Linked DNA regions of Homo sapiens. The protein of the gene in region 1 interacts with the protein of each later gene in a biochemical or structural test. Each region holds a gene or a part of one and is shown in the gene's direction. Other genes may lie near its edges.

The links. Proteins that work in one complex are often made in the same cells at the same time.
Region 2: the proteins of FLNC (region 1) and KCND2 form a complex in vitro, tested with the Homo sapiens proteins (one study listed by BioGRID).
Region 3: the proteins of FLNC (region 1) and SYNPO2 form a complex in vitro, tested with the Homo sapiens proteins (one study listed by BioGRID).

Annotation. Positions count from the first base shown.
Region 1 is NC_000007.14:128,833,389-128,840,415, forward strand, and holds part of FLNC (filamin-C), read left to right. Parts: intron 1-1,937; coding exon 1,938-2,186; intron 2,187-3,771; coding exon 3,772-3,869; intron 3,870-4,009; coding exon 4,010-4,160; intron 4,161-4,248; coding exon 4,249-4,367; intron 4,368-4,598; coding exon 4,599-4,676; intron 4,677-4,878; coding exon 4,879-5,041; intron 5,042-5,214; coding exon 5,215-5,415; intron 5,416-6,634; coding exon 6,635-6,772; intron 6,773-7,027.
Region 2 is NC_000007.14:120,731,148-120,738,174, forward strand, and holds part of KCND2 (A-type voltage-gated potassium channel KCND2), read left to right. Parts: intron 1-1,755; coding exon 1,756-1,918; intron 1,919-7,027. UniProt on the Homo sapiens protein: Voltage-gated potassium channel that mediates transmembrane potassium transport in excitable membranes, primarily in the brain. Mediates the major part of the dendritic A-type current I(SA) in brain neurons.
Region 3 is NC_000004.12:119,052,827-119,059,853, forward strand, and holds part of SYNPO2 (synaptopodin-2), read left to right. Parts: intron 1-4,574; coding exon 4,575-5,108; 3' UTR 5,109-7,027. UniProt on the Homo sapiens protein: Has an actin-binding and actin-bundling activity. Can induce the formation of F-actin networks in an isoform-specific manner.

The DNA of each region.
Region 1 (7,027 bases):
ATGGAGAAGTGGCTTGGTGAGCCCTGGTGGCGCTGAGCTCCTCTCCTCTGCCTGGCCTCCGAGAGGGAGGAGGGAGAGGGAGGTCATTGCTTCCAGAGTGGGACTTGGGGCCCCACTGCCCTTCTCCTGCCCCAAGCCTGGACCACTTGCTGTCTGGCCCAGGGCCAGTTGCTGGGGAGAAACTTCCCTCTCCAGCAAATATGAATGACCACCCTCCCCATATACACACCGCCCCCCCCAACCCCTGCAGCCTCAAGGCTTCCTGCCCAGGGGTCTGGCTCCAGTTTGCAAGAAGTACTTCTGGGCGTGTGAGCTTTGGAGGCTGTCGGGGTTGTGAGAGGCTGGGGGCACTGGGGCATCCAGACTGTGTGAAAGTGTTGGAGCCTGTGTGTTTGAGAGAAAGCACCGGGAGGCAGGGAGTGAGTGTGTCATGGAATCTGAAAGCTGCCAAACCATTGTGCTGCAGTGGAGCCAGGGGAAGGGGGTGGGCTGGGGAGCTGCTGGGGAAGGAAGGATGAATCAGTGACAGGGTGGGGGAGCCCAGGCGGCCAGAGCCCCAGCCAGAGGGACAGGGAGACTGAGGCACCCCTCCCGGGGCAGGTGGGAGTGGGGCAGGGGATGCCCTGGATTTCCCAGGCTCTCGGTCTCCTAACACTTTCCCCAAGACCTGGGGAAGGGTGGAGGGGAGAAGATGTGTAAGGGGAAGGCTCCACTCCACCCTCTCCCATCTCTCGGGCAACATCAGTAAACAAGACTGTCTTCCACCCCCTTCCAGCCTCCTGAAAGCAGTGCTTTGGGAAGCTGATAGATTTCAGAACTTCATTGCCCTTTACAAGTAAGCTGAATTCCAAAGATCTATCTACATGCTAGGCCACCCCAGGCTTCTGGATATTTCTTTCTGATTGTTAAGGGGGATCTAGGCGCCCCCCCCCCCCAAATCTTGAGGAACCAGTTCTGGCTCAAAGGATTCCTCAAAGGAGGTGATGGGTGGAGTGTGTCAGCTCCTGAGGCTGGAGTCCCTCTGGCCCCCAGCCTTTGACAACATGACTTTCAAGACTTAACTGAGAATGTACTGGACCCCACCCACCCACCCCTGCCCCACTATCAGAACCCCTTGGTTTCTAAAGCCCTTTCTGGCATTCGGGGTAGAGTGTGAGTGGAAACTTGTCCTACCCCACTCCAATTTCAGTTCTTAAAATATTCATTCAACCAATATTTATTGAGACCTTACTATGTTTAAGACCTTCATTGTAGAAAGATAAAACCTAGTGTCTAGAGTGAAAAAAACCAGACCAAAAAAAAAGAGAGTATATACTGTGTGATTCCATTTATATAACACTCTAGGAAATACAAAGTAATCTATCGTGACAGAGAGCAGATCAGTTGTTGCTTGGGATGGAGGGACAAGGACGGCAGGAGGGAGGGCTCACAAAGGGGTGTGTGCAAGGAAACTTTGGGGAGTGATGGATGGTACCTTCGTTATTCTCCATCTGTGGTGACGGCTTCGTGATATATCCATAGTGTCAAAGCTTCTCAAACTTCATTCTCTAGCATGTGCAGTTTGCTGTATGTCAATCATAGCTCAGTAGAACTGTTAACAAAACAAAAAGGCTCTGCCCTGGGAGCCTTACAATCCCACAAGGCCAGAAAGAAACCAGGTAATTACATAGACAGGAGGCAGACTCACTTGCTGTAGCTGAGGTGAGGGTACCTTCCAGAACCACAGGAACACAGAGAAGCAGCCTTCTGACCGGAAGGGCCCCATAAAGAACTTGGCATCTGAGTGGGGCCTCGCAGGAGGGAGAGGGTCAGGTAGGCAGAGACTAGAGGCCTGACCCCAGAGCTCTGGCCCGAGGAGCTGCGCAGGTGAGGGAGGGTGCTCTGGGGCAGTGGAGGGTGGGGCGCCCCTGAGCCCGTCTGTGCCCTCCCCTCTGCAGACAGCAAGGCCATCGTGGATGGGAACCTGAAGCTGATCCTGGGCCTGATCTGGACGCTGATCCTGCACTACTCCATCTCCATGCCCATGTGGGAGGATGAAGATGATGAGGATGCCCGCAAACAGACGCCCAAGCAGCGGCTGCTTGGCTGGATCCAGAACAAGGTGCCCCAGCTGCCCATCACCAACTTCAACCGTGACTGGCAGGACGGCAAAGCTCTGGGCGCCCTGGTGGACAACTGCGCCCCCGGTGAGTGGGCCAGTGAGCACAGCATGGAGCCCTTAGCTCCCAAAGACAGAGGGGACAAGCTGGGGCTGCCAAGGCGTGTGGTTGTCAGAATGCACACCCTGGGGCCTGGGGGCCAGGATCCCCTGCAGGGTTTGTCCTCCTCCAGCTGTGGCTCTCCGCTGGCTGGTGGCAGGCCCTACCTGATGAGTGTGCCAGATTCCGCAGAGGCAGGAAGAGGTTTAAAACCCCTCATTTTACAGACAAGGACACTATGGCCCAGAGAGGGCTGGTGACTTATCCAAGATCACACAGCTTATCTGTGGCAGAACCACCTAGAGCCCAGGGCCTGGACTCCCTGCCCCATGAATTTTTTACTGTGCCACGAGGCACTATTCCTGCCGAGCTGAGAGAGAGGCAGTGTGGTGACCAGGACTTGTAGCAAGACCAGGAGTTAGATCCAGAGAAGGCTCTTCTCTGGGAGACCCTGGGATGACTTTGAGAAGGGGTTGAGGCTCAGGATGATGTGGGATGAGGCCAGTGGGGCACTGCCTGGTGGCAGGTGAGCCAGCCTTGCCCCTTCTCCGTGTAGGTCCTGGCCTGGTCAAGTGGGGACAGCTCAGGGGCCATGAAAAAAGCTGAGGCATCACTGGCTAGAGCGTACCCCATGGACAGCTCCCTTTCTGCCCCTCATCTCCTGAAAAGATAGGTTTTCTCCAGGAGTCACAGCCCCTCGGGAGAATCCTCCTCCACCCTGGGGTCAGCCGGGGAGCAGAGGGTGGGAGGCGGGGGCACAGCCTCCTGGGAAGCATTCCCAGCTGCTGAGCCATGGCCCATAACTGGTGTGGCTGCCAGCAGTGAGCTCAGCTGTTCCAGCCAGTCATGGATTCCAGCCTTGAGCCGGCCCCCTCCCCGAAACGGTGTGCCGTCCCCCTCCTCCAGCTCTGGCCTAAACCAAGCGCCCCTTCACCTGCACCGTTCATAGGAGTGATCTGGGGCTGCCTCAGCGTCCTTCCTGTTAGGAAGGCAGGGCTCCTGAGGGCTGCAGAGGAGAAGTCATTCTCTCCTCACAGGCCCTTTAATGCCTCAGTTTCCCCAAGTGAGCAGTTAGAAGGAATAGGGAGTCTCATACCCTAAGACTGGTGTGGAAAGCGTTTGGAGTTCTAGAGCTTCGGGGCAGCTGTGAGGAGGCCTTCTAGGGGGGATGGGTCAGGGGCATATGTGGGACAGGCACTCTGACCTCCTCTGCCCACCCCTGAGAAAGCTGAATGAGGCAAGAGATAGCGAGAGGGGGTACCCTCCCAGGGTTTGGGGTTCAAGGTCTGAGCTGGGGCCTGGGCAGGCAGGAGGCCGGCCAGCAGGGCTGGTGCCAGGCTGCGTCAGCCAGGGCAGAAAGGCTTCATTGTTGGTGGTGGAGAGGGCTGTCCTGCTCCTACGTGGTGAGGGGCCTCGAAGCTGATGGGGTCAGCAGGAACCTGGCTGGTCAAGGCCTAGAGCTGGTGGGAAGGGGTGTAAAGCCACAGCCTCTGAGGGTGTTGGGTGAACAAATGCCCTGCATCCTGGCCGGCTGGCTGCCCCTCACCATCGTCTCCCTCCATCACCTCTCCAGGTCTCTGCCCCGACTGGGAGGCCTGGGACCCCAACCAGCCCGTGGAGAACGCCCGGGAGGCCATGCAGCAGGCCGACGACTGGCTTGGGGTGCCCCAGGTACATGCGCAGATGGGGCAGGGGGGAAAGGGGGCAGGGGCAGAGGTTGGGTCTGTAAGTTTACCTGGCCAGGGTGCAGGGGGAGACTGGGGCTGCTGGGAAAAGAGGGCGCCATGTGACATCACTCCTTTCCATCGCAGGTCATTGCCCCTGAGGAGATTGTGGACCCCAACGTGGATGAGCATTCTGTTATGACCTACCTGTCCCAGTTCCCCAAGGCCAAGCTCAAACCTGGTGCCCCTGTTCGATCCAAGCAGCTGAACCCCAAGAAAGCCATCGCCTATGGGCCTGGTATGTGTGAGCCCCTGGCGGCCCTCCTGGGCAGCTGGGCACATGTAGGCTCTCCCTGAGTAACCTGGGCTCTGCTCCTGCCCCGTAGGCATCGAGCCACAGGGCAACACCGTGCTGCAGCCTGCCCACTTCACCGTGCAGACGGTGGACGCGGGCGTGGGCGAGGTGCTGGTCTACATCGAGGACCCTGAAGGCCACACCGAGGAGGTATGCAGAGGCCGCTGGGGACAGAGGGATTCACTTGGGATTGGAACCAGAGAGCGTGGGGCCAACAACAGGAATGGCCCGGAGGTGACTGCCAGAGCCACACACTGTGCTGTGCAGTCTGGGGAAGGTGTCACCATGGGGGCTGAGTGGGGCTGGGGTGCATAAGGCACTGTGGGGTCAGGAGGGGCTATGGTCATTGGAGAGGCTTCCAATCTTTTTCCTTCCTAATAGGCTAAGGTGGTTCCCAACAATGACAAGGATCGCACCTATGCTGTCTCCTATGTGCCCAAGGTCGCTGGGTTACACAAGGTATCTCCCTCTAGGCCCCCCTGCCTGCGCTGCTCTTCACATCCTTGGTTCCGGCTGCATGGACCCCTCTCTCAGCCTGTACCTCGCGCCTGCCCAGAGCCCCAGCTGCCCGCCTCTCACCCTCCTTGGCCTGGCTGTGCCCCTCTGCCCCCTCTCAGGACTGCTCTCCCCTAGAAGCTAACCTTTGACCTCTGACCCCTAGGTGACCGTGCTCTTTGCTGGCCAGAACATTGAACGCAGTCCCTTTGAGGTGAACGTGGGCATGGCCCTGGGAGATGCCAACAAGGTGTCAGCCCGTGGCCCTGGCCTGGAACCTGTGGGCAATGTGGCCAACAAACCCACCTACTTTGACATCTACACTGCGGGTAGGACGGGCCCCAGGGGGTGCAGGTGGAAAGCCCCTGACCATGTGGGGCTGTGTGGGGGTGGGGGGAGGCTGGGACAGGGATGCCAGCCAGAGGGTGGGCAGCCTCAGGGTGAGGGCACCGGGGCAGCTGTGTGTGTCCAGAGTGGTGCTGACAGCCTCTGTTTTCGGCAGGGGCCGGCACTGGCGATGTTGCTGTGGTGATCGTGGACCCACAGGGCCGGCGGGACACAGTGGAGGTGGCCCTGGAGGACAAGGGTGACAGCACGTTCCGCTGCACATACAGACCTGCCATGGAGGGGCCACATACCGTGCATGTGGCCTTTGCGGGTGCCCCCATCACCCGCAGTCCCTTCCCTGTCCATGTGTCGGAAGGTAAGGGCCCTTCACTGCTCCCCACGGTAGCCCTTACCAAAGCCAGAGGCTTGCAAGGGGCAGGAGGAAGAGCTGGGGCGGGGGTCTGCAGAGACCCCCTCCCTGAGTCCTCCATCCCACCCCCAAGGTGGCTGGAGTTCCTAAGAGCACAGCTGGGAGGCCACAGTGAAGGGTCCCAGAACATGTGCCACCCTGGGAGGGCTGAGCGGAAGTGACGGGGCTGTATGGGTGGGGGCATATCTAGGGAGTACTGCCTGCATGCCAAGCCCTCAGGTGGTGACTGCCCCACTTGTTCTCTCCCTGCACTCAGTGCCCATCGTCCACCAGGCCGAGAGTGATGCCACATTAATGCTCTCCAGTGGAGGCGGGGCCAGGCATGGCCGCAGCTGACTGGCCTCACCTGTGCTGTGTGGCATGGCCCGGGCCGTGTGGAATCGCCCCCCCTTCCTTGGCATTCTGTGGCAGGCCCCAGGTTCCATGCCGTTGTCTGTGTTCTGTGGCAGGTCTAGTGTCTTTGCCACTTGCCTGGTGATTTCTATGATGAAATCTGGGCTCTGAGCCATTGCCTGTGTTCCGTGGTACCCCTTGGGCAGTGCCATCGCCTATGGTCATGGTAGTCCTGGAATATGTGTCGTGTCCTGTTTCGTAGCACCTGTGGGTCCCATGCCATTTTTCTGGATTCTGTGGCAGGCTGAGATTCCCATTCCTTTGCCTGTGTTCCATAGCAAGGCCTGGGCTCATTGCCACTGGCCACGGTCTGTGGTAGGCTGATGTCCACACGTTGCCTGTGTTGTATGGCAGGCTTCGAGTTCTATGAAGTAGCCCTTGTTCTGTGGCATTGCTGGATGTTTTGTGGCATGACTTAGATCCTAAGGTTGCTTTGGTGCCCTGAGAGGCCCAGAGGGCTCTAGATGGATGGCCTTGGGCTGGGTAAAGGGGCCTTCCCTGTCTCTCTGAGCCCACTCTCAGCCCAGGCTCTGCCATGCATTTCCCCAGTGGCACTGGCTCGGAAACTTTCTTGTAACCTGCCTGATCTGGGGCCTGTAGCCAGCTCCAGCCCGGCAGCCCCGGTTGTGCTGGGGACACAAAGGGCTCCAGAGCAGGGCCGTGGGCCACTGCCTGTGCCTGGGAGGGGTTAGAAGGACTGTGCACAGGGAGGTGGGGGCTAGTGGTCCAAGGCCCCTCAGCACCCCCAACCTCCTTTCTCTTCCTCCCCTAGCCTGTAACCCCAACGCCTGCCGCGCCTCTGGGCGAGGCCTGCAGCCCAAGGGTGTTCGCGTGAAAGAGGTGGCTGACTTCAAGGTGTTTACCAAGGGTGCCGGCAGCGGGGAGCTCAAGGTCACGGTCAAGGGGCCAAGTGAGTGCCAGAGCCCAGGGTCGTGAGGGTGGGGCTGGGGGATCATAAGGGAAGTATGGCCAGTGGTTCTGACTCCCAGAGGGCAGTGACAGCCAGCACCACAGCTCCACAGTGACCAGAGGCACCCCAGAATCTCAGGCTCATTGTCTCCTCTCTGCCTCAGTTTCTTGGTCTACAAGCCAGGAATGATTCTCTCCACCCTAAGTGCTATACGGGGTGTTATGCACAGGGATGACAAGTGTTCCCTGCCCTGAG
Region 2 (7,027 bases), 8.1 Mb from region 1:
TCAACTAATATGTAGTAGGAGCTGGCCTTATGCTCACGAAACACAAAGTAGAACTGCTCCTGCTTTAGCAATTTTACATTCTAATGTCAGTAGGGTGGATGAGGAGTGAAAAAATAAATCAATAAATAAGAAAATGTTACTTGTTAATAAGTACTCTGAAGACAGTCAAATGAGGAAATGTTACAGAGAATGAATAGGAAAGAGAATAAGACTACTGTGAATTAGGTGGCCAGAAAATCACTTGGATGGAGACATTTAAATGGCACCCTGAATAATCACCATCTGGGGGCTGCACACAAAACAGAAGGCCAGATGGCCAGTGTGGCCAGAGGCCAGTGAGCTTGGTGAAAGGTGGTGTAAAATACAGGCAGGAACTAAATGAGGTAGGCCCTTGGAGGCAAAACTGAGGAGTTTGGATTTATTTCAGTTTCAAGTCCATGTCAGGGTTTAAGCAACATAGCAGTAGTCCAATCTCCATTTTTAAAACCAAAGTTCTGGCTGCTATGTTGGCATGAATTGTAAAGTGCTAAATGTAGAAAGGAGAGTCAGGTAAGAAGCTATATCTATGGCTCTGGCAAGAAATGACCACGGTTTGGTTTATTGTCATAAAGAGACTTGAATGGGATACAATTTGGTTTGCACAGAGACAACAAGACCAGCTAAGAGATGAAACGTTGATACTGGCAATTAAGGCGATGGCTCTTCCAATTTTGGTATGAACAACTGCATGGTGGTGATTATGTTTAATTATAAGTGGCAGAATTGTGGGGGGAAAATATTTGAGAGAGGAAGAGGAAGCTAGGGAAATGAGAGTTCCATTTTGGTTAATTTAAATTTTAATGGGCTCTTAGGCATCCAGGGGTAGAAATAATCAGACCAGACCACTCAAGATATGAATCTGATTTTCAGGAGAGACATCATGGCTGTCAATATAAATCAAGAGCATCAGCTGCATAGAGATAGTTTTAAGCTATGAGATTGGACAAAGTCACATAGGAAGTGGGTTTATATGGAGAAGATAAGAGGACGGAAGACTGAGACCTAAAGTACTCTAAGGTTTAGAAATCAGATAAGGGGAAAGGAGGCAGAAAAAAAGATGGAGAAGTGGTAGCCAATGAGATAGGAGGGAAAATAAGAATATTTTCTAATACTAAAGCCAAGAATAAAAGGAGTCTTTCAAGGAGAGAATAGTCAACTAATAAGCTACAAATGAGAGATTGAGTTAGATTTTTATGGAGAAATGGCCATTAGATTTCACAAGTGAAGGTTAATGGGGACCTTGAAAAGTTTATTTTTTAAATGATGACATCTGGTGAAAGGAATGTGATGTGCTACTTTTTCTACTTAAATTTCATAACCAATTGAATGTTGAAAAAACTAAGTGGAAAATTGTGTTATCCAGACTCTAAATTTCAGCATAGAATTATTGAGTATTAAATAAATGTAAAGAACTGTGTCATGGCATATAAAGGAAAAATTGAAGAGCTATCATTACATCATCTGACTTAAAATATTTTCCAATCAAAAAGATTACTTAATGTTAGAATCACTTTCTATAAGGTTGAAAGGTAATTTTTATATTCAGATATTTATAATTTCTGACATTAAAGTCTGAAGCCATATATATTATAGTCACAAAGTAGAAATAGATATGTCCAAAAAATCATTTGACTTAAAGGAAAAAATTCTTAGTTTCAGGTAGAAATGTCTTTCTGTGACTTAAAACAATATATATATATTTTTTCTTTAACTCAGGTATGGTGACATGGTGCCAAAAACCATAGCAGGGAAGATTTTTGGTTCTATCTGTTCGCTGAGTGGGGTCTTGGTCATTGCTCTACCTGTTCCGGTGATTGTATCCAACTTCAGTCGCATCTACCACCAGAATCAACGAGCAGACAAACGAAGGGCACAAAAGGTGCGTATTCAACTCCGTGCAACCATGGTTTAGCACTTCCCACTTTTTATAATGAGCTTTAAAATTTCTTAATGGTTATTCAGTGCTCTGGATTGGTCAGTAGTTGCATCAATCAGGACCGAGTAGGTTATTCTACACTAAAAAGAAACGTAACATCTCAGTGGCTTAAAACAATAAGCAATATTTCTGAATCATGCTACAAGTCCATTACTTGTCCAGAGAATAGAGAGTCCATCTTGACAGTGTACTTCTGCAGTCACTCCAGCAGGAGTAAAGGGCATGATGAATCACACACTGCTTCCTAATGTCCCTCCTGGAAGTGGTTTGAGTCACTTTCTTGTCTATTGCATTAACCAAAGCAAATCACACAGCAATGTCTAATTTCAAAGTGGGCAGGAAAATACAATTCTACTGTGGGGCCAGAAGCAGAAAATAAGAAATATTTGACGAACAGCACTAATGACAGTAGCAAAATCAGAAACAGATTCTTGGCAAATTTTATTAAAATCAGATTTCTAGATCTGATTCATTGAGTCTCTATCTATCAAGGGTCAAACTGGTTCCAGTAGACGAGGGTTATTAAAGGTCACCAAGATGTGTCTCAGATATTTTACATAGTTGACACAAGAAGTAATCTGATCATCTGTAGCTGAATTTTATTCTCGTCCCAGCAGCTTACCGTTTGTTTGAACTTCATGCCAGGTAATTAATCCCTCTAAGAATAAGCATAGCGTACACTCAACTGTAAAATGGGGAAAATAATAAATAATAAGATTAAGATTATATACAAGTATATGTAAATTTATATAAACACATCATATTATCAATATTTAATGTTTACTGATGGTTTATATGTGTCAGACATTAGCCTAATGTTTTTCACAAAAGAATTCATATGTTAAAAGACAAACCTTAGCCAAATTAAATTGAAAAGTTTAATTGAGCAAAGAACAACTCATGAATTGGGCAGCCTTTGAAGCCAGAGTAAGCTCAGAAACTCCAGCACAGCCGCATGGTAGAAAAAGATTTACAGGCAGTAAAAGGAAAGTGACATACAGAAAACAAAAGTGAGGTACAGAAACAATTGTACTGATTATAGCTCAGCGTTTGCCTTATTTGAACACAGTTTGAACAGTTGGCCCCCTTTGATTGGCCAAAACTCAGCGGTTGGCACAAGAGTGGGTTACAGTCTGTTTACTCCTCCATGTAAGTTACAGTTCACTATGCATAGAGAAACCTTTAGGCTAAACTTAAAATATGTAAGGAGGCAACTTTAGGCTAAACTTGAGTCAACACATACAACCTTCACAAAAACTCTGGCGTTAGTTACCATTATTATCCTCATTTTTATAGATGGTAATCCTCAAGTACCCCCAAATTAAGCAATTGTAAAGTCACATACCTGTTAAGTTGGAGATCCACCATTCCATCCAAGCCATTCTGGCTCCCAGGTTCATATACACAAACACTATGATAAAGTGCCTCTCAGAAAAGCTATGTAAATGTTAGCATACTTCCCTTCCCCAATCTTTGTCAAAATAGTCACCTTGAGAGGCAGGGCCCTTGTTGCTTAGAAATAATCTTGGAAATCTCTTTTGTAGTTTCCTTTGGACTTATGGCACTGTATTTCCAGTGTTCTTCATGGTCATTATATCTTTGTCCTTTAAGGATAGTTTCATTTTTTAAAAAATATCCAAAACCATTCATAATCATGACTAAAGTAGATGCACAACCTAGGTGATGTGTTATAACTACAAAATATCATGAGAGACTTTGATATAGTTATTCACTGGCTTTGTAGGTAATTCCAGAACGGGATCTTAAGCACGCATATGAACAATGTCAGCCTCTTAAGTAAAGTATACAATCTCATAAAGTAAGTCTTTGGAAAGTTCTAGTTAATCACTGTGGCCACACAGCATATTTGTCCAGAGAACTAATTTATGCCCACTGTCAAAGATCTTCTTCCTTTAGCAAAGAATCACTTTTTCAAGCTCTGTAGTTACTTGCTTTATGGAACCCTTCATTTTTGGACAAATGCCTAGCCTTTAATTATTACAGAGAAGAGTTAGAAATAGTCCAGTCAACATGGATATAGAGAACTGATCATCTAACGAATAGGGAGGAGTAGAAAAAGGCACCCTCTGGACAGTTGTAGTCTTATGTAGGGAATACATACCCTTGGCAAGCAGAGGTAAAGGGATTTCAGCCACAACTGACCCCACCACCAGGGACCTTCAAACATCACACTCATGACGCTGCCCATACAGTACAGTCCCTCTACTGAGTACAAACACACATTGTCTAAAATAACAGGATCCTACCAAAAGTTTAACTTTCAACCACCCATCTATCTCCATTCTAGACATTTCTCCTTTAGTATAAGAGCCAACTGTATGAAAACTATAGAAAGCACAAATCTAAATTTCCGATAAACCAATTTCCCAAACACTTGTATTTCTTCAGAGTTTGTCATCTGCAACAAAGAAATCAATAAAGAAAACCTTAGAATATTTTAGAAGCCTTTTGGTCTACTAAATATTAAATACTAAAATACATTTAGAAATCAAAAGTAAATAATGTGACATTCTAAAAGTACACTAATTGAAAAGTATATTTTGTGAATGCTTTTTGGTATCTTTAAATATTTGCTATATTTTTGGTTTCTGCCATAATGCAATGAATTTTACAGAGTTTTACTACTGAAAAAATTGGATTAATAAAGTAAAATATAATAACCAAGTATAATATGTCCAGTATGTAGACTGTGACCAATAAACTGAACATAATCTTCTAAGAAAGAACAGTGGATATGAACTAAATAAGTTACCAGGGGATATTTTCTATTTTCCTTCCCAAGAGATTAGGGGGAAAAAAAAGCAGAACAAACGCCCATTAGGCTAAGACAGTTTATTTATCTGGGACTGGGCTATGTGCCAAATATTAAAGTTATGCAAAAATGACCAGCTAATTCAGTCAAGCAAGCATTCAATTCAGTAAAAACGTCAGTCCAACTGACTAATAAAAGTAATATTACAAAATGGTTTGTTAGACCATATTTTTGGTGTTTAATTCAATTGCCACACTAAGACCAAGCAAAAGCATGAAATAGACACAATATTAATTTTAGAAAATTCCTATCATCACTATCAGAAATACTTTCCTTCTTCTAGTTTCTTCCATTTGCAAGTACTCTTCCTACTTTTGCTGTCCACTCCTGCCATATACAGGGAATACATGGTTTACCCCATTTCTATCAATCATTGATAAAGTCTTAACTAAATACTGACATGCTGGTGGGTATAGGCCTAAACTGTGACACCTCTCCTCTACTCCCACCATTGGTAATTATATTTTAATAGATTTATTGATTCTCGTAGTTATACTATAAGTATTTACTGAGTAGAATGTATTAGCCAAAATAAAGCTAGATTAATGCAATGACAAGTGGCAGGTTGACATTTTGAAGCAGCTCTTTTAATATATGGATCACATCACCTAATCATCTGCATACTCACAGGCTAACCTGTGAGTAATTATCATATAATAATCATAGTAGTAATTATAGTTATAATTTAATAATACTAATTGCAACAACAAAAACCCTCACTAGTTTCTAGAATGTCCCAGGTGTTTTATATCTGTTTTTTTTGTAATATTCACAATCAACTTGCAAAGGAAGTATACTATTTCCATTTTACAGATAACTTGCTCATGCTCACAAACCTAGTGATTAAAGTCCAAGGCAAAAAAATTCTAGTATTATTTGAACTATGAATATTTTAGGATATTCCTATAGATAATTCTAAATGCAGTGAGAAGTTTAGAATCAATGAGCCAATGTATAGTGTAATATTTTTAAATTTCACATTGACTTAGAAAGACACTACCCATATGTAGTCTGCCATTTATCACACCCTGCTAGGGTGGTTTTCAAACTTTAGATTCATTAGAATCATCTGGAAAGCTTACACACACACACACACACACACACACACACACACACACACAAACAAAAAAAAAAAAAACAAAACAAAAAACAGATTGTTGAGCCCTACTCCCAAATCATCAGACTCTGTAGTTTTGGGTTAGAACCTGAAATTTTGCTAATAAATTCCCAGGTGATGCTGATATTGCTGTTTGGAAGACCACATTTTGAGAACCACTGCCTAGTACATTCAGCAATGTCAAAATCAAAGATTTTTATTTAAGTAGAATAATGAAAAAGCAAGAAATAACTACTTGCTAGAACCTGAGAATGATCTCTTAGGTTATCTACTGTTAAAAACAAAATTACCCAGCTCCTAATTCCACCTAAGAATTTGGTCTTGGATGCTCTCCTATATCCTCTTTCAGTTCTCACCGCTTCCACCATGGAATCCTCTTGTAGACCTCTCATTGCTTAGCCTCTTCCACTAACCCAAATCCCAGCCCTTTTTCTGCTTAGCCCTGCCATCTCCAGGATTAACCAAGTTCTGGACCTAGGAATGTTGCACTGTCTGCCACTGACTTCTTTCTTCTCTTTTTATTGTAGTTTGGTACTAACTTGTCTCATTTCTAGCACAGCTATTTTTCTTAGCAAGTGAAAAGATTCCAATAAATGCCTTAAACTTCTAAAAGGTGATAAAGTTTACTATGTTACCTCAAACTGAGGCATTTTACTAACCCTTAAATGAAAGAAACAACTGTAAGCAAAATTTCCAGAATGCATGTTACAGGGAGTGTGGAGGCAGGCATTTGAGGAATAAGGAATTACCAAAGAGAAACACCTTCATTACCTCACTTTTAAGGCTACCTAGGATACCTTTATTTTTCAAAAGATTTTGTGATTTGGTAACAAGATGGCCCAATAACTTCCTTTAATCTACCTCATACCTCATCTAGAAATGACTGACCATTTAAAGAAATCAATGTCTCAGTGGTGTTTGGCTTATAGATCCTTCTCAGATTGACTTCCACCCTCTGTTCCACAACATAAACTATAAAGTTTATGTCACTTGGCGTAATTAAAAAACAATCTACTTGATAAAACCCATTGTGTTCCACTGCATTCTAGCCTGTGAGTACTTCACAATACAAGATTTCTATGTCAAATTAGTTTGAGGAAAT
Region 3 (7,027 bases), on another chromosome or scaffold:
CCAGGATCTGCTAAGTTTTCTTCCAGTGGCAGCAGAAAACTTTTTTTTATTAAATAAAGTTTAAAAGGTAGTGGGAGACAGAAAGAAGCAATTTGATGGGTAAAGCTAATTTAACATCTTGGTTACAGTTAAGTGCTCTCATATAAAAATATTAAATTCCCTTGATGATGATATAACCCATGGTGGAAGTGACAACCCAGGACCTAATCCATGCTATGCTAGGATTCCAGCGTCAGACATTCAAACTCCAAAACAAAAGAAACACCTCTGTTACTTTCAGGTTCCTTTGGTCGTTTCTGGCTCAGGGTATATCACATGGCTTCATTCAGCCAGCCAAACAGAGAACAGCCTGAGCCTTGAAACTGTGATGGACAGAAGGAAACAGCACCAAAAAACACTGTGAAAATTGCTTTGGGGAAATACATTAAAATTAGAAGTATGGGTGCCAGTAGAGGCTAGAGGCTTGCAATATTTTGGACACAAACAGAAACTACATTGTACCTATGGAATGATTTATTTATATCCCAGTTGGATCTCTAACCTAAAATGGTTTATCATCTTATCCTCTATTACTAGCACTTGAAAGAATGTGAAGGCATGTTCGTCAGTCTGGGGAAATGTAGAAGAGCCATGGTCATTTTGCTCATTGAGCTGGTTGCTCTTCTTTCCTCACTGCTGTTACATTTGTCATATGCATGTTTGGCGTGAGATTTTTGCTTTCAGCTTCAATCCTAGGTTTTAATTTCCCTTCAGAAAGCCCTGGCTTACTCTTTCAATACCATACCTCAATATTTTAGTTTTCTCCCTGCATATTCATCTCTTTGTTAATAGGATATCACTGAACAATATTTTGAACTTTATAAATTCTGTCAAGTTTCAATTCTTCTGAATATTTTCAAACTCAGTGCATAAGAGAAACACCAAAAAATAATTCCTCTCTTTCATGTAATGTTTTGGATGTCTTATCACTGCAATGTATGCTTTCACATAGTACTTAATACTCCCAAGTATATTGATAATTATTTCTTTTTCCAGTTATTAGCCAGTAAATTAAACACCTGTATATATGTTCAGGGGCCTCACCGAGATTTCTGTAAAGTCTTAGCTCCCTTTATCTATTGCCATCCCCTCAGCCTTCTATCTTTTAAAATACCTAAATAACTGACTAAAGCAGTCCCTCAAGGTGCTACATCTAATTGATGCAGGATTTTTTTTAGCCTCTTTGCCAGACTTGCAACAGGGGTGCCCTGTTTACTCAGCTCACTGTGCTCAACCCCTTGAGGGAGGGAGCACATGAGTGAGTGAGTGTGGGATCTGGCTGGCCACTCCGGGCGCCAGCAGGAGCAGACTTCATGTGTGGCCCACAGCGGTGCCCAGGTGGGGGTGCTTGCGACCCCAAAGCCCCAGAGGGAGCGTTACAGTGCTCTCTTAGTTCTGCCGTCCACAGACGGTGGTTTGTTAGCAGCTCAGTTGGCCTCTTGCCTCATTGTGTGGGGTGGCTGCCCTTCATCCGTGAGGGCAAAGGGCCGGTGTGATGGCCTTTTTGGGTACCTGCACTCGGTGGGTCCCAAGCTCTTGTCCGGCGTCCAGGAAGAATGAGGTCACACAGACAACTGAAGGGCAGAGAATTTTACTAAGCTACGAAAATGGCTCTCAGTGGAGAGAGGAGCTAGACAGCGAAGAGGATGGGCAGGTTGTCTTCCCCTGAAGTCAGGTCATCTCTTCTGTAGTCTGTCCATCTCCCTCGAAGTCCAGCTGTCTCTCTGAAGTCTGGCCGTCTCCTCTAAGGTCCGGCCATCTCTCCCTCTACCGACTGAGTCTGGGGTCTTTATAATAGGCACACGGTGTGGGTGGGGTGGGCCGCAGGTAGTTTTGGAAAAAGCAACATTCCACTGGTAAAAAGACACTATTCACAAAGAACCAATCAGGAGAGAATGGGCAAACAGGAATAGAAGTTCTCACTTTGGGCTGTAAGTTTCAGACTATTTTGGCTTGAAGGTGGGGTTTCACCAGGGATCCACCTCTGTCTGCCTAGAATTTGTCTGCCTCCTGCCTCTATCATAATCAAAGACCACACAAAGCAAAATCATGGGACTCTGAAAACTCTCCCAGGGCCTCTGTAGACCACTGTTGTTCTAATTCTTCCACAGAAAGGACAAAAGTGATATACAGACACACACCACAACAGACAGCTACATTTCTCTTTATCACACTGAGTCTTACCACTTCTCACAGTTTAGAAAACTTCCTATTTTTTCCTGTCAAGACAGTTAAAGAGTCTCTTCTCTATCTTCTCTAAACTGATCTTGTTTCTTATTATTTATTTATTTATTTTTTTTTTTTGAGACAGAGTCTTGCTCTGTCACCCAGGCTGGAGTGCAGTGGTGTGATCTCAGCTCACTACAACTTCTGCCTCCTGGGTTCAAGTGATTCTTGTGCCTCAGCCTCCTGAGTAGCAGGGATTACAGGCCTATGCCATCACACCTTGGAGAATTCTTTTGTATTTTTAGTAGAGATGGGGTTTCACCATGTTGGCCAGGCTGGTCTTGAACTCCTGATCTCAAGTGATCCATCTGCCTCAGCCTCCCCAAGAGTTGGGATTACAGGCGTGAGCCACTGCACTGGCCCAAACTGGTCTTCTGTAATTGACTTAATTCAGCTACTGTGGGGCTAAAACTAGTACTGGATTGTGTGCTTATTGAGGGCAAGGACTTTATCATCTTTAAGTCTTCAGCTTATAGAAGAATACCTGGAAATATTAGGTGTACAATATGTTAATTTATGTTAAATGAGTCTATGAAATGAACACATACATAATGTGAAATAGAAACTAAGGCCTTAAAGGTGACTAAAAGTCAGGATTCCCCACACCTCACCCAAATATAGAGTAAGGAGAATTATGAGTGGTTCTGAATTAAGACAAGATTAGTGAAAGCAAGTTTTTGCTAAGATTCAACCATTGTAAGTAAAATTTAAATGATTAAAATGAGAGAATCAAGATTTATTATATTGGACCCCTTATTCTTCAGATAGAAACCAGGAATGAACCATCTACCTTCTTTGTGTACCTAATAATAAAAAAAAAACGAAACATTTGAATCTGAGATATTTTGCCTAAATCCAGGTATTGATATTCACTTTAAAGTTAAGAACTTGATTAAGAGAAAAGCTGTTGAAACTGTTTATGAAATTAGAGCACATTTTTAAGCATGGTAATGTTTTTTGTTAGGAAACAGGATGTTTTGATACTTTCAAAGTTGATACTCCTGTCCCCTAGGTGTACCCTTTCTGCGTTTTTGCCAAGAGCTTATCTCACACAGCCTCATGCATATTGGAATGTGTGAAGATGTAATGTGGATAGCCAGCCATCAGCATTCCTAGAAATGCAGAGGAGTAAAAGGAGAGAATGAGAACACAAGAGGTTTCATTAAATTATATTGCTGTAGCCAGGCACCGGGGCTCATGTCTGTAAGCCCAGCAACTTGGGAGGCTGAGGTGGGAGGATGGCTTGAGGCCAGGAGTCTAATACCACCAGCCTGGGCAACAGGGAGATCCTGTCTGTAAAAAAGATTTTTAAAAATTTAGCCAGGCATAGTGGTGTGCACCTGTAGTCCCAATTACTTGGGAGGCTGAGGCAGGAGGATTGCTTGAGCCCAGGAGTTTGAGGCTGCAGTGAGCCATGATCATGCTCTGCACTCCAGCCTGGGCAACAGAATGAGACCCCAACTCTATATAATAATAATTAATAATATTCCTGTGTTATTAGTCAAGCTGAATATTAAGTATACACAGAGGAATGTTGCAGGGATACAAACTCTCAAAGAAATAGGAATGTAATACACATGAAAGGAAGCAAAATGCAAATTAAACAAGAGGCAGGAGTAATTCCCTCAGAGACAAAGGCAATACACTCCACTCAGGAAATAAAAATCCATGTGATCGTCACCATATAAATAGATTTTGAGCGGAAAAGGGCCAGGCAGTTAATCATACCAGTAATGTTAACTACATCTAAGAAGCTCTGGTTTGTTTTTGCTATATTCATTCACTAGACCAACATTAGATAACAGATTAAAAGTCACTTGGGAAGAGTAAAAAGCTCAGTAATGTACAGCTTGTTTCTGAGGTTATCAATAGGTTTTGTTTATTTTGTACCAGCAAAGCAGGATAGGAATAAGGTTGGGATGTGAATTCACATATGCTTATGTGGAGGGCAGAGAGAAGGAAAGGTGGTTCCTAGTGATGACAGAGCCCCCGCCCTGCCCCTAGTGACTATGCCTAAGAAAGATGATAGCAACTGGGGCTATGCGTTCACAGATGGGGAGCAACTAGGAGGGCCAAGTGCAAAAGGTAAGATCAAGTGGCAGCCCACCATTTGCACTTGGCCCACTTTTGCAAAGGTGGGGACAGGCAGCATGTCCTGGCTTTAAGACTAAGCATTCTGGGGGGTTAATTTATTTTTATTTTTATTTTTTATTTTTGCAGTGCTTGGTAATGGTGCTAGGAATACTTTGGAGTAACAATCAGCACAAACCAAAATGAATGAGATATATTAATATTTTCATTGTTTTTAGGAGAGTGGGCGCTCCCTTTCTCTTCCTGGAAGATCAGTCCCACCCCCCATTTCTACATCTCCTTGGGTATACCAGCCTACTTATAGTTACTCTAGTAAACCAACCGATGGACTAGAGAAAGCAAACAAGAGACCAACTCCTTGGGAAGCAGCAGCAAAGTCTCCTCTCGGTCTAGTGGATGATGCTTTCCAACCCAGAAACATCCAGGAATCCATTGTGGCAAATGTGGTTTCAGCAGCTCGGAGGAAGGTGCTTCCAGGGCCTCCAGAGGATTGGAATGAAAGACTGTCCTATATTCCTCAAACCCAGAAGGCCTATATGGGCTCATGTGGAAGGCAAGAGTATAATGTCACAGCCAATAATAATATGTCCACCACCTCCCAATATGGTTCACAGTTGCCATATGCATATTATAGGCAGGCTTCAAGAAATGATTCTGCAATCATGTCCATGGAAACCAGGTCTGATTACTGTCTTCCAGTAGCTGATTACAACTACAACCCACACCCAAGGGGATGGAGACGCCAAACATGAAAGTTAGAAGAACGGATCATGTGCCAACTGTAGTTTTTTAAAAAAAACGCTCCTTTGTAGGGTTTTAAACTTTTCTAATAGATTTAGATTCACTTTTGGTCTTGGCTTGTTCTCATAAGTCATTTATCTAAGTTTGTGTTTCTGTGTGTGTGTGTGTGTGTGTATGTATGTGAATATACACACACACACACACACAGGTGAGTGTGAATACTTCCTTGTTGGCTGATCCATAGAGCATTACTTGGAAGAAAATTTCACTATTTGCATTGATGTGCTGGCATTTATATGTAATTCATAATTTTGATTCCATTAATAGGTAGTCTATGCAACAAACTCTACTCAATTAAAGTAAAACTAAGTATTTCTTCATTGTACCTTAGTCCAGGAAGAAATTAATGGAATATGGTGTGCTAATTATCACTACCTATAACATGAGGAATATAACATTGCAGAAATTTCTCATAGGGGCATGCCAGTGAGCAATTACTTTATAAAAATATTTTCCTTGGTGTTAAGTATTTCTCTGCAACTTTTTTTTTTTTTTTTTTTTTTTTTTGAGATGGAGTCTTGCTCTGTCCCACCCAGTCTGGAGTGCAATGGTGCGATCTTGGCTCACTGCAACCTGCGCCTCCTGGGTTCAAGCAATTCTCCTGCCTCAGCCTCCTGAGTAGCTGGGATTACAGGCATGAACCACCACACCTGGATAATTTTTGTATTTTTAGTAGACACAAAGTTTCACCATGTTGGTCAGACTGGTCTTGAACTCCTGACCTCGTGATCTGCCCGCCTCAGCCTCCCAAAGTGCTGGGATTACAGGCGTGAGCCACCACACCTGGCCTTTCTGCAACATTTTTTTAAAAAAATCTAATAAATCTTAGATTTTTAAAAAAGAATTAAAATGTGGGAGTTCTCAGAAAGAAATAAACACATGAGAATAAGATTATTACACATTTTGGAAGGACTTTTGAGGAATGATGTGATGTGTAGAGAATAGAAAGATTTAGATATATGCCTGTGACAGGAATAGATTCTGGGTTCAGGGGTCCCCATCTGTCAAATGAGAAGATTGGATTATCTAATCTTTTAGATCCTTAACAACTCTGATATTCTGAGATTCTCTCATTTGTAGAATGCCCGCTGATGCATTGTTTATTTTTTTTGCTCATAATATAAATATCAGATTATGTTTAGGAGTGGATTAGGTAATTAGTGTCACTACATGTATCATTAAAGGTCCTAAAAGGAATTGTTAGGCGGCAGGCTTTGTGTTACGTGTTACATGGAGTGAGGGTAGATGTGAAGATTTAAAACGATTGATGGATTTAAGGAAGTGGTACATAAATATGTCTGTTATTATGCAATCGTAGGTCATGATAATTTATTCAGTTATAGAAAACATGCCACAGAAGCCTATGTAACAAGTGGTGCTTCTTTAGAAAGTTGTCATTAGAATGTTCTGAGGAAGTTAAGCAGCTGCTTCATCAATCCCATGACACATGCCTTGTTAGCATGCCCATCAAATAATCAGATCAAACACCTGCTCCTTATTGCCATACCCACGAACTGTTAAATATAAAAAAATTCAAAGTATTTGACATCTTAAGCAAATATCCAGAATATTTTTAAGTAAAAAACCATCTTAAGTATTCAAAATTTCCTTGGTTTTTTAAAGGTGATAATTTTGCTTTGTGTTACTTTTTTGCTCTTGAATGTATCGTTATGATGGTCTCTTATAATCATGGTATCTTTCACAGAATAAAAATTAAAAATAATGCCAGGGTGCAAGTGACCAAGGCCTTATCTTGAAAGTTAAAAAAAAAAAGTAAAGAAATCACAGTAAGTTCTATTAGTGATGATAGAACCAGATATAAAATTGTTCAGTGATGGAGAAAAGAAACGATAAATACTTTCCAAGGTTA